2 linked regions of the Homo sapiens genome follow. The gene in region 1 interacts genetically with each later gene. Each region holds a gene or a part of one and is shown in the gene's direction. Other genes may lie near its edges.

Region 1 (3,964 bases):
CATTTTTTCTGTCTTTATTATTATTATTATTATTAACAGCAAACATTAAATCACGTTTTCTCCGAAATTGGCAAAAGAAGAGTTCTCAAGTCCCACACTAGAGTCCACCTCCAGGAACTTTCCTCTTTTCCCAGCCCCCTCCCCCAAATGTGCCTCTCCCCTCCAGGATCAGCGGCCCAGAGATAGGGACATGTCATTGTTTCCGAGGACGCGTTGTTTGAGGTCACCTTAAGGCCAGATCGGTGTTTCATTGACGATTCTGTTGGTTTTATTTCAGTAAGTTCTATATCAAAAGGATCTGGCAGCTCCTTTCCCCGCCCGGGCGCTATAGGTGTTGTGACCCTTGGGACAGAAGTTCAGAGCGAGGGTGGGGGGGGGGGAATACACATCGTGTATGAAAACCGACTGCAGATTCTAGATAATCTTACGTATTCTCACATCCTTGGCACTACAGGAAGCTAGCTTCTTCCCGCAAGGTTTACTCCAGCTCTAAGTTAGAGACAAAGGCCCACTTTTACCTCGAGGTAAAGTTTACAAGATTTCAGAACAGGAAGAAAATGAAGGTTTGGTTTTGTTTCGTTTCTTGAAAAGAAGTTAATAGTATGTCTTTCTCCTAGGATAAATAGCCATGCGTATTTTAAAAACTATATATAAAAGGAATGTGTAAGAAATAACCTCAACTCAAATTATTGTGGTAGAAGAAGAGGGGGGGTCAGACAGTGGAGGGGGGCACAGGGAAACCCAGCCACAGACTAAAGAGAAAGGTAAAAGAAGCAGTAGAGGAGAGAAACAAGGACGGGGAAAAAAAGAGGAGCGGAAAAGAGGGCTGAGGAGGGGAGGGGAGGGGAGGAGAGGAGGGCAGAAGAGAAGGAACGAGAACAAGGGAAAATCCCCCGGGAACACAGAAAGATAGAGACCCAGGGGACTCCCGCAGAGAGGGCCTCTTGGGCTTCAGCGCAGAGGAAAGTTTCCCGGGCACCCCCTCTCCTCCCCTGCCCTCCGCCGCCTGGGCCCTGCCCTGCGTGCCCCCAGGCCCAGCGCGCCTCCGGGCGAGTCCCCAGGAGCGCGGCCCAATGGATCGCTCCGGGCCCGCCCCCTCGCGCGCTGATTGGCCGCCGCCCCGCTGGCCTCGCCTTATTAGCAAGTTCTCTGGGGAGCCGCGGTAGGGCCCGGAGCCGGCGAGTGCTCCCGGGAACTCTGCCTGCGCGGCGGCAGCGACCGGAGGCCAGGCCCAGCACGCCGGAGCTGGCCTGCTGGGGAGGGGCGGGAGGCGCGCGCGGGAGGGTCCGCCCGGCCAGGGCCCCGGGCGCTCGCAGAGGCCGGCCGCGCTCCCAGCCCGCCCGGAGCCCATGCCCGGCGGCTGGCCAGTGCTGCGGCAGAAGGGGGGGCCCGGCTCTGCATGGCCCCGGCTGCTGACATGACTTCTTTGCCACTCGGTGTCAAAGTGGAGGACTCCGCCTTCGGCAAGCCGGCGGGGGGAGGCGCGGGCCAGGCCCCCAGCGCCGCCGCGGCCACGGCAGCCGCCATGGGCGCGGACGAGGAGGGGGCCAAGCCCAAAGTGTCCCCTTCGCTCCTGCCCTTCAGCGTGGAGGCGCTCATGGCCGACCACAGGAAGCCGGGGGCCAAGGAGAGCGCCCTGGCGCCCTCCGAGGGCGTGCAGGCGGCGGGTGGCTCGGCGCAGCCACTGGGCGTCCCGCCGGGGTCGCTGGGAGCCCCGGACGCGCCCTCTTCGCCGCGGCCGCTCGGCCATTTCTCGGTGGGGGGACTCCTCAAGCTGCCAGAAGATGCGCTCGTCAAAGCCGAGAGCCCCGAGAAGCCCGAGAGGACCCCGTGGATGCAGAGCCCCCGCTTCTCCCCGCCGCCGGCCAGTGAGTAGCCAGAACCCAGGCGCAGAGGGAGGGGGCCGGGTGGGGGCCGGGTGGGGTGTGGGACCCGAGGGCTCCTGGTGGCCTCCGGCGCCTGCGTACCTGCAGCCGGTGCTAGGGAGCCGTGGGCTGCAAGGCCGGGTCTTGCGCCTCCCTCCACTCCCACCCAGGAAGAAGGTTCCAGACCTCCTCGCCTTGGCCCAGAGACGCTGCGGGTGGGAGTTAACGGATAGGACACCGATGTCTGGGCACCCTGTCCTCCTGCCCCCACCAAACGACCTCAGGGGTCCATGATCCCTCATCTGATCCCAAACTCTGTTTCATCGGCTTCACCCCAGCGGATGAATGTGTGTGGTGCGGTATCTTCCCTGCACCCGGAGTTTCACTTTCTCGCAGTAGGAGCTGGTGTCCCCCAGCCCCTCTTCCCTTTCAAGTACCTCTTTGCCTAGAGGTTCCGAAGCTCCTACAGAATTCTACCTCCCCATGCCCTTTGAGTTTGAGGCAGATAGTTGGTGCTTTGGGCGGATGGATGATTCAGGGGTGGGGACATTCAGGTTCCAGTGGAGGGGGCGGGGCACCAAGTCAATTAGGGGAAGGCGCCCCCGCTAATCCTATGGGAAGCTCCCAAACGTCTAGGACTGAGCCATTAAAGTGGACTCCAGGTGCCCAAGGCGGTTCGCTCCAAGGCCTCACGGCCCCCTGGCTGCTCTACTCAGAGAACACGCTCGGAGATATTTCAGGAGCACGGGAAATTCCCAAGTTTTCCTCGTTTCCTCCGATTATTTTGCTCGGCATAATAGCAGCCAGATTTCAATGGCGTGATGCTGAGGAATGATTTTTATCTGGGGATTAAACGTCTTTGAAAGGCCAGTCCCTCCCTAAGCCTAATGGCCGGAGAAGGTGGCCCCGCTCTGGGTTGTCGCCGCTGAAGGGAGTGACGTTTCTCTCGGCGCCCGCCCCTCGGGCGGCCCGGCGGAAAGCTAGTTGGGGGCCAAGCGCTTCCCGGACTCCCGGTGGCCTCCAGCAGGGAAGAAGCGGGGTGTTAACACGAGATTTCGTTTGACTCACATCCTGGTGGTCTGAAAGTCCAAAGGATCGTTGTGTTTTCTTTGTTTTGTTTTGTTTTTTCTGTTTGTTTGTGGTTGTTTTTTAGAGAGGTGTGAAAAAATGCATACTTAGGCAAAACCCGCGTGGTGAAACATCTTCGATTTGAATTCACTTTCTGCCGGGAAAGCTGCTGCATAGGCAAAGTGTCCTTTCCAACGCTTAGGGCCTTGGGCCCCAAGACCCCGAAGTCAAAGCGATCCCGGCTGTGTTGGGATAATTTGTTCCACATTTTATCCGGGGGCAGTCCCCAGCAGACCCCATCCCCGACCTGCACTAGTCCTGCGCTCTGATGCTTCTTCACTGTCCACCCTTGAGGTTTATTTTGAAGCCAAAAGAAAAAGACAGCTGGGCATGTTGATGTCTGCTGACTATGCCACAGGTTGAGGGGAGAGGCGATCTCAACACTCCCCCCGCAACAACATCAACACACACACACACACACACACACAAACGTTTGAGTGGGGCCAGAGGGCCCTGGCGCCAGGGGTGAACGCGATCCAACAGAGGACTGAGACAATCTAAAGAAAAAGCCCATTAGAATAAAGCAGCCCCTCGTTCTCCGCTCCAGATGACACTTTCTGTTTCTAAGAGGGCTGGCCACAGTGCACCCTCCATGATGGTCTGCGCTGCTCCATCTCTGGTCTGCGGGAACTACTCCTAGAATCCCGTAGGAGCGAAGTGTTCCGGGGAAAGTGTAGAATTTGATTTGGATTCTATGCCACAAAACTGCCTAGCCCCACACTGAAGCACTCCGTGGGCACTGATAAATGTTTGGCCAACGCGTAAAACTAAATGTGCCCTTGGGCTGGGCGCAGGGCCTCTTTCTGCATGTTCGTCAACTGTATTAACATCCACCTTTCCTCTGGATGGCCCTGGGAGGAGGCCCGCCATGAAGGCCTTCCTAAGCCGCCGGGCAGCACAAAGGTGATTTCACATCTTCCCAGCTGTTTAGGCCTAAGATGTGGACATCGAGCCTTCAACGTGGGTATTTT
Region 2 (3,500 bases), on another chromosome or scaffold:
GCCCAGGCTGGAGTGCAGTGGCACAATCTTGGCTCACTGCAGGCTCCGCCCCCTGGGTTCACGCCATTCTCCTGCCTCAGCCTCCCTAGTAGCTGGGACTACAGGTGCCCGCCACCTCGCCCAGCTAATTTTTTGTATTTTTAGTAGAGACGGGGTTTCACCGTGTTAGCCAGGGTGGTCTCGATCTCCTGACCTTGTGATCCGCCTGCCTTGGCCTCCCAAAGTGCTGGGATTACAGGCATGAGCCATGGGGGCGCCCGGCCTTTTTTTTTTTTTAAGACAGATCTTCATCCGGGTACGGTGGCTCACGCCTGTAATCCCAGCACTTTGGGAGGCCAAGGCGGGCGGATCACCTGAGGTCAGGAGTACAAGACCAGCCTGGCCAACATGGTGAAACCCCATCTCTACTAAAAGTACAAAAATTAACCGGCGTGGTGTCAGGTGCCTGTAATCCCAGCTACTTGGGAGGTTGAGGTAGGAGAATTGCTCGAACTTGGGAGGTGGAGGTTGCAGTGAACCGAGATCGTGCCGTTACACTCTAGCCTGGGCGACAGAGTGAGACTCTGTCTCAAAAAAAAAAAAAAGAGCTTCGCTCTTGTTGCCCAGGCTGGAGTGCAACGGCACGATCTCGGCTCACTGCAACCTCCACCTCCCAGGTTCAAGCAATTCCTCTGCTTCAGCCTCCCAAGTAGCTGGGATTACAGGCATGTGCCACCACGCCTGGCTAATTTTGTATTTTTAGTAGAGATGGGGACCATGTTGATAAGACTGGTCTTGAACAATTTTTGTATTTTTTAGTACAGATGAGGTTTCGCCATGTTGGCCAGGCTGGTCTCGGATCCCTGACCTCAGGTGATCAATCCACCTGCCTCGGCCTCCAAAAGTGTTGGGATTACAGGCGTGAGCCATCACTCCCAGCCCCTAGAAACCTTTTTAAAAAAGAAGGCTTGGCCGGGTGCGGTGGCTCACGCCTGTAATCCCAGCACTTTGGGAGGCCGAGGTGGGTGGATCACAAGGTCAGGAGATCGAGACCATCCTGGCTAACATGGTGAAACCCCGTCTCTACTAAAAATACAAAAAATTAGCCGGGTGTGGTGGCGGGCACCCATAGTCCCAGCTACTCGGGAGGCTGAGGCAGGAGAATGGCGTGAACCCGGGAGGTGGAGGTTGCAGTGAGCCAAGATTGCGCTATTACACTCCAGCCTGGGCGACAGAGCGAGACTCCGTCTCAAAACAAACAAACGAACAAAAAAAAGAAGCCTTGGTCCAGTGCAGTGGCTCACGCCTGTAATCCCAGTACTTTGGGAGGCGGAGGTGGGCAGATCCATCACCTGAGCTCAGGGGTTCGAGACCAGCCTCGCCAACATTGCGAAACCTCATCTGCACTAAAAATATAAAAATTAGCTGGGCATGGTGGTGTGCACCTGTAATCCCAGCTACTCGGGAGGCTGAGGCAGGAGAATCGCTTGAACCTAGGAGGCGGAGGTTGCAGTGAGCCGTGATCATGCTACTGTACTCCAGCCTGGACGACAGAGTGAGACTCTCTCAAAAAAACAAAAAAGAAGACTTTTTCAAAAAATAAAAGTTTGGGTTAGTTTGGTGTCGATTGGGTGATTGCTGTTGATACTTTGTGGTTCTTTAGTTTTCTCTAGAATGAATGATTAACAGTTGTGTCCTCACTTTCAGGGGCTCGGGGGATCCTGGCAAAAAGAAACAGCATATTTGCCACATCCAAGGCTGTGGGAAAGTGTATGGCAAGACCTCTCACCTGCGGGCACACTTGCGCTGGCATACAGGCGAGAGGCCATTTATGTGTACCTGGTCATACTGTGGGAAACGCTTCACACGTTCGGATGAGCTACAGAGGCACAAACGTACACACACAGGTGAGCAAGAGCCTATGGGAGAGAAAAATAGTAATAGACTAGAATGAAAAACACAAAATATACCTACAAAATAACTAAAATTTCTGAGCAACTTAATTTGAAACTGAATATATGGGTCACAAATGGAATTGGAGTTAATCTGGAAAATTTTTAAGAAGGAAGGAGGGGCTGGGTGCAGTGGCTCACGCCTGTAATCCCAGCACTTTTGGAGGCCGAGGCGGGCAGATCACGAGGTCAGGAGATCGAGACCATTCTGGCTAACATGGTGAAACCCCGTCTCTACTAAATATACAAAAAAATTAGCCGGGCATGGTGGCAGGCGCCTGTAGTTGCAGCTACTCAGGAGGTGGAGGCAGGAGAGTGGCATGAACCTGGGAGGCGGAGCTTGCAATGAGCCAAGATCGTGCCACTGCACTCCAGCCTGGGCGACAGAGCGAGACACTGTCTCAAAAAAAAAGGAAGGAGCCAGGTGTCGTGGCTCATGCCTGTAATCCCAGCCCTTTGGGAGGCCGAGGTGGGTGGATTTCTTGAGGTCAGGAGTTCAAGACCAGCCTGGCCAACATGGGGAAACCCTGTCTCTACTAAAATTACAAAATAGTCAAGCGTGCTGGTGCACACCTGTAATCCCAGCTACTCAGGAGGCTGAGGCAGGAGAATTGCTTGAACCTTGGAGGCGGAGGTTACAGTGAGCTGAGATTGTGCCACTGCACTCCAGCCTAGGCGACAGAGCAAGACTCTGTCTCAAAAAAATAAAATAAAATAAAATAAGGAGCTAGATTTTGAGTGGGATTTTTGAAGGTGAAGCATTGAAACCATTACTCTTAGTCTCTGCCCTGCCTTACTTTTAAAACTGCTAAGTTCTACCTTCCTTACCGAGTACTCCCCAACCTTTATCTAGTTTTCTTCCTCACGCCCCCGCCAAAAGGAAAATATACTTGAAGTTTTTTGTTTTTTGTTTTTTTTTTGAGACAGAGTCTCTGTCGCCCAGGCTGGAGTGCAGTGGCGCGATCTCGGCTCACTGCAAGCTCCGCCTCCCGGGTCCACGCCATTCTCCTGCCTCAGCCTCTCCGAGTAGCTGGGACTACAGGCGCCCGCCACCACGCCCGGCTAATTTTTTGTATTTTTAGTAGAGACAGGGTTTCACCGTGGTCTTGATCTCCTGACCTCGTGATCTGCCCGCCTTGGCCTCCCAAAGTGCTGGGATTACAAGCGTGAGCCACCACGCCCAGCCACTTGAAGATTTTTCTTGTTTTTGATCACCTTCTCATACTGGCCTTACTCAGCTTAGTAGAGTAAGCACTGAATTGGGTAAGGTAACCTCACTTCCTAACATGTCAGCTTCTTATCTTTTCTTCCTTTACCTAGGTGAGAAGAAATTTGCCTGCCCTGAGTGTCCTAAGCGCTTCATGAGGAGTGACCACCTGTCAAAACATATCAAGACCCACCAGAATAAGAAGGGAGGCCCAGGTGTAGCTCTGAGTGTGGGCACTTTGCCCCTGGACAGTGGGGCAGGTTCAGAAGGCAGTGGCACTGCCACTCCTTCAGCCCTTATTACCACCAATATGGTAGCCATGGAGGCCATCTGTCCAGAGGGCATTGCCCGTCTTGCCAACA

The links. A genetic interaction does not mean that the proteins touch.
Region 2: of MSX1 (region 1) and SP1, changing one suppresses a phenotype caused by changing the other (phenotypic suppression), as found in Homo sapiens cells (one study listed by BioGRID).

Annotation. Positions count from the first base shown.
Region 1 is NC_000004.12:4,858,501-4,862,464, forward strand, and holds the start of MSX1 (homeobox protein MSX-1), read left to right. Parts: upstream 1-1,164; 5' UTR 1,165-1,399; coding exon 1,400-1,868; intron 1,869-3,964. UniProt on the Homo sapiens protein: Acts as a transcriptional repressor. Capable of transcription autoinactivation.
Region 2 is NC_000012.12:53,407,676-53,411,175, forward strand, and holds part of SP1 (transcription factor Sp1), read left to right. Parts: intron 1-1,686; coding exon 1,687-1,886; intron 1,887-3,251; coding exon 3,252-3,500. UniProt on the Homo sapiens protein: Transcription factor that can activate or repress transcription in response to physiological and pathological stimuli.